2 linked regions of the Homo sapiens genome follow. The gene in region 1 interacts genetically with each later gene. Each region holds a gene or a part of one and is shown in the gene's direction. Other genes may lie near its edges.

The links.
Region 2: changes in RAB2A (region 1) and TRAPPC13 together harm fitness more than expected from each alone (negative genetic interaction), as found in Homo sapiens cells (one large-scale study listed by BioGRID).

Annotation. Positions count from the first base shown.
Region 1 is NC_000008.11:60,588,933-60,594,423, forward strand, and holds part of RAB2A (ras-related protein Rab-2A), read left to right. Parts: intron 1-2,925; coding exon 2,926-3,037; intron 3,038-5,491.
Region 2 is NC_000005.10:65,635,027-65,638,526, forward strand, and holds part of TRAPPC13 (trafficking protein particle complex subunit 13), read left to right. Parts: intron 1-274; coding exon 275-343; intron 344-917; coding exon 918-1,017; intron 1,018-2,669; coding exon 2,670-2,754; intron 2,755-3,500.

The DNA of each region.
Region 1 (5,491 bases):
TGTTTACTTCTTTGTGTAGAGAAGAAACTATTATCATATTCTCTGAAGGCCTTTCTTGGGTATTCTTTTCCACATTTAAATCATCTCACTAAACCTTTTTAAGGTTATAAAGCTATTGGAGGGAAGTTTTAGTCTTTCTATGATGGAAATAGTTATTCTGTCATTCAAGGTATGAAATAATAAGAGGAGAATACTTGGAAAATAAAGAGAATTTTTATCCTTTTATTTTACCAATTTTTTCCTTGTGGCTGAAACATGATGAGTGACAGCTTACTGGTGGCTTAAATTTGGTCACCGACCACTAGGAGCTGATAGTTCAAATGTGAGAAGAAATAAACAAAGCATAGTATGTAAACGAGATGTTTCTGATGATCGTAGGTGGGTGACCTTTAAAATCAGGAGTATAACGAACAAGAAAGAACAGAGAGAAATAAATGAGATGATTATTTTTAGATGAATTGAACTGTGGATAGACATCAAAACAGGGAATAAGCAATTTTTGAATTAGACGCATTAAGCAGTAGGGAGCCAGTGAAGGGCAGTGACCTAGTCAGAGCAACAGATGACACAAATTTTTCTTACTATGGCATTTTATTAATAAATTGGTTATATAAGAAATAGGAAGCAGAGATTTAAAAAATGAAAGTTTTTTAATAGTGTAAGGGTTGTAATGCAAACCCTAAACAAAAAGGGGCCATAAATTAAAAGAAAGATACTTAAGTAACCTAAGCAACTTAAGTGGGATTCAGAGGGAGTGAACTAAGACAACAATATGATGTAATGCCTGGAAAACTGAGGTATTTTTAAAACTTTGCACTAAGTATATCGTCAAGTACTATGGCTTTTGAGTTTTTTGATTTGACCTATAGTAAGAAATGTATTTTACATCATGACCTAGTAAATAAATTGTGTATACACCTACACATATAACAAAATATTCGTAAATTATACCTTTATACGTAAGTTCCATGAAACAGTAGATGGAACTTATGTATATAGGTGATAGACTCTGATATTTTATATTGTTTCTTTTTTTTTTCCCTTCCCAAGATGGAGTCTCACTCTGTCGCCCAGGCTGGAGTGCAGTGGCGCGATCTCTGCTCACTGCAACCTCCGCCTCCCAGGTTCAAGCAATTCTCCCGCCTCAGTCTCCTGAGTAGCTGGGATTACAGGCACCCACCATCATACCCAGCTAATTTTTGTATTTTTGTAGAGACGGGGTTTCACCATGTTGGCCAGGCTGGTCTTGAACTCCTAACCTGAGGTGATCCACCCGCCTTGCCTCCCAAAGTGCCGTAATTACAGGTGTGAGCCACCGCACCCGGCCTATTGTTTCTTTTTTTAAAAAAAAATTCTGATTATTTCCTACTGAGTGATTTTTACAATTCATTGAGTCATGACACAGTTTGAAAAATCCTACCCAGGCTTAACGCAGTGTCTCAGTCCTGTAGTCCTAGCAATTGGGAAGGCCAAAGTGGGAGGATCACTTGAGTCCTGGAGTTCAAGACCAGCGTGAGCAACATAGTGAGACTTTGTCTCTGAAAAAATTAAAAAAAAAAAACTGCCCTGGAAAAGCCTTGGCACGTGTATACACAAATATATATATATATTTTATATATATATGTAAAATACATATATTTTAATATATGTATTTTATATATATATAATACATATATATATAATGCTTATTGTAACATTGTTTGTAATAATGAAAAATTATAAATAACTTTGCCTTATAGAGAATTTAAGTTGTATTGCATTCATTCAGTAGACTGTAATTCACCAGTTTAAAAACAAACTAGATCTGCATGTATTATATGGATAAATTTGAAAAACATAGTGTTGACCAAAGTTAACAAGTTGTAAAACAGTAGCTACATCTGAATTTTTAAAGACATGAAAAAGAAATACTATTTATGGTTATAAACATGAGGATAAATGCAAAAACATGCATGAGAATGAAAACACCAAATTTAGGTAGTGGTTACCTTTAGGGTAAGAGGGAGGAGAGTGGGATCAGAGACACACAGGTGGTGATTCTGCTGTTGCTGATTTTATTTCTTAAAGGGAAAGAAACCTGAAATCTGGCAAATAATATGTCAAGGCTAGCTGGAAGTATGTGGACATTATATTATACATCTTTTTTCATGTATAAACATGTAATAATAAATAATATATAAAAAGTAATAAATATAATAATAAAGTTTTTTAACTTTAAAAATAAAACACGCTTTAAAAGCAACTGCTACCTCCCCTCCCCCCCACTAATAAAATTCTAGTATGATAAAAATGAATACCCTGCTTTCATTGGAAATTTCTAGCTTACACTTTCTCTCTCACTCCGTTTCTCCTTTTCTGTCTCTCTCTACTCCTTCTCCCTCCCTCCCTCCCTCTCTCTCTCTGTCTATATCAATTTTGCTTTAAGAGGAAACTGGGAATTAAACAAACTGGGATCAATGATGTAATGTATCTTTAGTACTTTGGATTTTCTAAACAATTTCCTGTAGTTTCTGAGAGTTGTATTTTAATCACATTCATAGAAACTCAGTCAGTCTGGCCAATGGAGGAGAATAGTATAGTCCTGCTCTTTCAAATTATGTTAAGCAAAATGGCTTTCTTCTCTGGGAATGCACTGTACTCAAAGATATAAGGTATTAGACTAGAGGCTCCCTTAAGTTACGGCTAGTTCTAACGTTCTAAAGCTCTAACACAGAATCTTTCTTCTGTTGGATTGTTAGTTCTTTGAAACTAGACAGTGTGTTCTAAATACTAACCCTCATAATACCCTGAATAATACAGTTAGTATGTTAAAAATTAATTAAAAGAATGGTCATCACAACTTTGAATTCCATGGTACACTTTCCACAAATGCTTCTGTTTGTACCATGTTGATTAGTAATGTGACCCTTTCTTTCCCATGTTTAGTGATTTAGAATCTAGAAGAGAAGTAAAAAAAGAAGAAGGTGAAGCTTTTGCACGAGAACATGGACTCATCTTCATGGAAACGTCTGCTAAGACTGCTTCCAATGTAGAAGAGGTAAATAAGAGGCCCTTTAAAATCTTCATCTTTATACTTAATAGAAATGTTTTATATATCTTCATTTTACTTATTATTTAAGTTTTTAGTCGGATGGTCTTTGAACATCATAAAGTAGGAAAGTTTCTTCCCTTTGAAATCCCTTGTAACATTCACCTTCTGTCAGACTCTTAAATCATATTGAGCCTTCTAAAGCCTGAATGTTTTCTTACATTTTTGTACGTATTTTCACTCCCTCCCTTTTTCTAAACAATTTCCTATAGTTTCTGAGAGTTATATTTTAATCACATTCATAGAAAGTCAGTCTGGCCAATGGAGGAGAATAGTGTAGTCCTATTCTTTCAAATTATGTTGAGCAAAATGGCTTCTCTGGGAACCCACTGTACTCAAAGATATAAGGTATTGGACTTCTTCGTGTTGCATGGTAGGGAAATCTTTTTTGTGTTGCATGGGAGGGAAACAAGGAACCACACTAATGAAATTTGGAAATGTTTCAAGACAGCAGAACGTTTGTAGCTATTTATATCCACTTCTGCTTATTTTTTTAATTTTATTTATTTTTTTAACTGTCAATATATTACCACATCACCACTTCTGCTTAAAGTATTCTATTATTGCTGTGTAACATTTTACAAAGCATGAGAATTCTGTTTCATCTATTGATGAAATTTGTATTATTTCAGTTATTTCCATTGATGAACCTGAACTATTGGAACTTTTCTGAACACAGTGTATTCTTTTATGCTCTATGTGTTTGTGTTTGGAGGTAGTATGTATATACATATTATAAATAGATGATTACGTAGTTGATCCTTTCTAAGGTAAATGTATTACTATACTGTTATTTTATAAAAAGAGGTAATGAAGCTAAGAAAAGTAGTAGTTTATCCAAAGTAATACTTAGTTCCCGATTTCTAGATAAGAACAGCTTATAAGAGCAACTACAGAAAGTAGTTCTAAAAAACAAATGAGTTAAGAATCACTGCCGTAAGGATAACAGAGGTCAGGGTCCTGGGCAACAGCTAGCATGTGCCTTCAATGTAGTAAGCAGTCAGTAAATATTTATTAAGAATGATACTTGGAGCTCTTCTGATTAACCCTTGAACCTAAAAATTGACTACAGTAATTCTACAGCATTGGTATTTTCACCGAAGAATTCTTTCTTAGGTAAAATATTATACAGTCATGTGTTGCTTGACAAAGGAGATACATTCTGAGAAATATGTCACCAGGTGATTTCATCGTCACGTGACCATCATAGAGTGTACTTACATAAGCCTAGATGGCATAGCCTACTACTGCACCTACTACACACTTCCCTTAGTAGACCTTGGTGCCAGAGGAATGACACAGTGATGATTTCCCTTGGTTTTCTTTTTGCCACATACCCGAGACTGGGTGCTAGAGAAACAGGCAACCTAGAAAGGTCAACAGGCACAGAAAAAGAAAGTCTTCTAGCCAGAGAACCAGGAAATAGGCAGGTCAGAACAGTGTTCGCAAGCCAGAACACTCTTAGAAAGTAACCATTCTACTGTAGCCAAACATCACAGAAAAAATTGTGGCTCTGCTTCCACAATCCCCAGGCAGTAATGAAGTAGCACCCTACCACCACCATTTCCCTTGTTGGAGTGGAGTGAGAGGAAGCCAACTAAACAGTGGTTTAAATAAGACCCAGAGTCTCATAACATAGTATCTAAAATACCCATGTTTCAATAGAAAATCATTCATCATACCTAGAACCAGGAAGATCTTAAATTGAATGAAAAAAAGATAATAGGTGCCAACAGTGAAATGACAGTGGTGTTTGAATTATCTTACAAAGATTTTAATGCAGCAATCATTAAAATGCCTCAACAAACAAGGAACATGCTTGAAACAGAAGAGTCTTAGCAAACAAACAATCTGAGCAAAAGAAATGCAAGATAAAAAAAAGAACCAAATAGGAATTTTAAAATAAAAAAAAATACAATAATTGAAATTTTAAAACTCTTTCAAAGCTCTTTGTACACTAGAAAAAAAAACTTAGTGAATGGACTCAACAGCAGAATGGAGATAAAGGAAAGAAATAGTGAACTGGATGATAGAACAATAGTAACTACTTAGTCTAAACTGCAGAGAGAAAATTGAGGAAACAAATGAACACTACCTCAGGGACTTATAGGACTGTAACAAAAGCTGACGTTATATGATGCATCATAAGTCCTAGAAGGAGAGGAAAAAGGAATGGCTCTGAAAAATACTCAAAGAAATAATGGCTGAAAACTTCTTAAATGTGGCAAAAAGTATATAAACCTACAGATTGAAGACAGCCCCAAAGAGGTTAAACCCAGACAAATCCACATGATGACGAACCTCTGTATGGTCAAATTTCTGAACGTGAAAGACAGAAAAAAAAATCTTGAAAGCAGCAAAAAATAGCACCCTACGTATAGGGGAAAAACAGTTCTAATGATA
Region 2 (3,500 bases), on another chromosome or scaffold:
TTTCCAGTTTTTCTATAATGAATGCATATTGTATTTACATTTAATTTTTATAATTCATAGGTTGTAAATAAATGGTGCTTATTTTGTAACATTACAATTCTTAATAAATCACTGATGTGTGATAACCTTAGGAAGTATGTAGTATTATATTTAGGAAGTATTTAGGTTATATTTTATGTTAGTATAAAATGGATGAATGTCATACACTAGACTTGAGAATATTAACCCTAAGCAGTATTAATGTTTTGTTTTCTTTTACTTTTTTACTTCACAGTGATGCGGCTGACTAAGCCTACTTTATTCACCAATATCCCAGTAACATGTGAAGAGAAAGACTTACCTGGTATGGCACATGCTTTCCTCTATTTGCACCTAGGGAAAGGTTGAAACCTGAATTGCCTGCATTACCTTGGACTAAGCCTAGCCCTGTAAATTTTATGCTAACCATTTGCTGGATTCTTTGTTGCCTATTTTTGTATCATGTGAAAGGTGGCCATCTGAGTAACAGGCCTTACTTATACTCTACAAGTCCAAATTATGTTGATATCCTATGGCAGTATGAGACAGTTTAAGATACATTCATATTCATAATACTATTAAAATTGCCTTTATCCTCAAATGTTGCATCAATGTATGTATTAGCATTCCCTTTTTTTTTTAAGAATTATTGGGGCTTTCTCTAGTATATTTTCTATCTCATGACGTACATTTTTCTTTGTTTCTAAAGTTTCCATTCCCTGTGAGATCAGAATTTTTTTGACATGCTTTGTTGTATTAAAATCTAGAAGTTAGACTTTTTAAATATCATCTTTGTCAAGAGGTTGTTTTTTAAAATATCTCTCCCAGCTATTTCTTTATATAAGTAAAAGTTATTTAAAGGGTAGATGTTAGAATTTTATGTTTTTCTCTTCATTCAGGAGATCTCTTTAACCAGCTGATGAGAGATGATCCTTCAACCGTTAATGGTGCAGAAGTTTTAATGTTGGGAGAAATGCTGACTTTACCACAGAATTTTGGGTAAGAATGACATATTCACATAAGAAACCTTGTAAAGCCATTACAAATTATGTTTTCAAAACAGAACCATGGGATGGGGAAATGCTCATGATACATTTACCTTTTTTTTTTTTTTTCTGAGATGGAGTCTCGCTCTATTGCCCAGGCTGGAGTACAGTGGTGCCATTTGAGCTCAGTGCAACCTCCACCTCCTGGGTTCAAGCAATTCTCGTGCCTCAGCCTTCCGAGTAGCTGGGATTACAGGCGTGCGCACCGCTCTGGCTAATTTTTGTGTTTTTATTGGAGACCGTGTTTTGCTATGTTAGCCAGGCTGACCTTGAACTCCTGACATCAGGTGATCCACCCGCCTCAGCCTCCCAAAGTGCTTGGATTGCAGGCATGAGCCACCACGCCTAGGACATGATACATTTGAGGGGCAAAAATATTATTAAAAAATCATACTATGTGATTATGGCTTTCTGTTATTAAAAAAAAAAGATATATACCAAAATAAAATGTTAATAGTGGTTCCTAGCATAATAGAATTTTAACTTTCTTCTTTAGATCTTACTATATTTTGTAATGGCCACATAGTCTTTTAACTACTAATGTAAACATCTTTTTCAGAAGCCAGTCTTTGTTTTTTTGCATCATAGTCCTCTCCCAAAATGAGTTATCAGACTTGTCAGCTAATTAGGAACTCTAAATTTATTTCTTCTGTTATCCTTAGCTGTATTATTATTCTAGATTAATAATAAGGTAGAAGCCCCTGGTTCCACTCTGTTTGCAACAGACAGAATTTGAGACAAAAAGAAATTTTACAGATTGTTTTTATAGTTTTACAGAATGTGGTCATTGACTAGTGTCTTGAAAAACTGGGAAATATATTCATGTAAAAAGTATAAAACTAAAATAAAACCACTGGTGATTTTTATTCAAGTAACCTAGGAAATAAAATAAATTGGTAAAAATACCCCAATATCAGTAACTTAGATCTCTTCTAGATTCAGGGAATAAGTTATTTCAAGAATGGAAACTTGGCTCTCTCTAACCTATTCAGATACAAATCCTAAGACTTTAGCATAGGTCTAATTTCAATGAGTCTTATCTCTAGTGAGGTTGGCATTTTGTACAGTAGTCAAAGGCCAAGATATATCATGTTCTATAGATTACGTCTGTATTTTGAATTGCACTAGGTAATGAATGAGTGGCCTAGTGTGAACAAAGGAATGTTGAAGCAGTATTTCACCAGATTTCTATCCTTCAGTAAATGTTTCTCCATTTGAAGTTCTTAGTGATTCTCAAACAGATTATTTAATGTAAAACCTGATGGGCACAGTGGCTCACGCCTGTAATCCCAGCACTTTGAGAGACTGAGGCGGGCGGATCATGAGATCAGGAGATCGAGACCATCATGGCTAACATGGTGAAACCCCGTCTCTACTAAAAATACAAAAAATTAGCTAGGCGTGGTGGTGGGTGCCTGTAGTCTCAGCTACTCGGGAGGCTGAGGCAGGAGAATGGGGTGAACATGGGAGGCGGAGTTTGCAGTGAGCCTAGATCGTGCCACTGCACTCCAGCCTGGGTGACAGAGCGAGACTCTGTCTCAAAAAAAAAAAAAAAGAAAAAAAACCTGAATGGATTTCTGCCTAAATACTTATTTTATTTTACAGGAATATATTTTTGGGAGAGACCTTTTCCAGTTATATCAGCGTTCATAATGATAGCAATCAAGTTGTAAAAGACATATTAGTAAAAGTAAGTAACATTCTTACTTGGGATGTATTTTAGTCTTTAACAAAGGTTTTTTTTTAGGCCGGGCATGGTGGCTCATGCCTGTAATCCTAGCACTTTAGGAGGCTGAAGCAGGTGGATCACCTGAGGTCAGGAGTTCAAGACCAGCCTGGCCAACATGGTGAAACCCCATCTCTACTAAAAATACAAAAATTAGCCAGGTGTGGTGGTGCACACCTGTAGTCCCAGCTACTCGGGAGGCTAAGGCAGGAGAGGCTAAGGCTTGAACCCGGGAGGTGAAGGTTGCAGTGAGCCAAGATCACGCCACTGCACTCCAGCCTGGGTGACAGAGTTAGACTCCATCTCAAAAAAAAAAAAAAGAAAAAAAGGTTTTTTTATATCTATTATGTTTTTGGCACTTCATTAAATGCACGTTTGATACAATAATTTTTAATTGTCATTAACAAGCACTAATGAATGCCTACAGTTATAAAGTATTATGTTAGGCATGAAAACATTTTTCCTATTCCACAAGATTTGTGATTGCTTGGGTGAGAAAATGTACTAGTCAAAGCTAAATAGCAGTTTAGTATTTGTTAATGTATGTCATTAACATGGAAGATGAAAGATCACTGGAGATTATGTCAATCTGGAAGGTTTCTTGGGGGAGAGGGAATGCGAAGAGGATCTTGAAAGAATGGGAGGATACAGATAACAAGGCAAGGGAGACATGGTAATCAGAGGCAGAGACATAGTGGTACACATGTGTT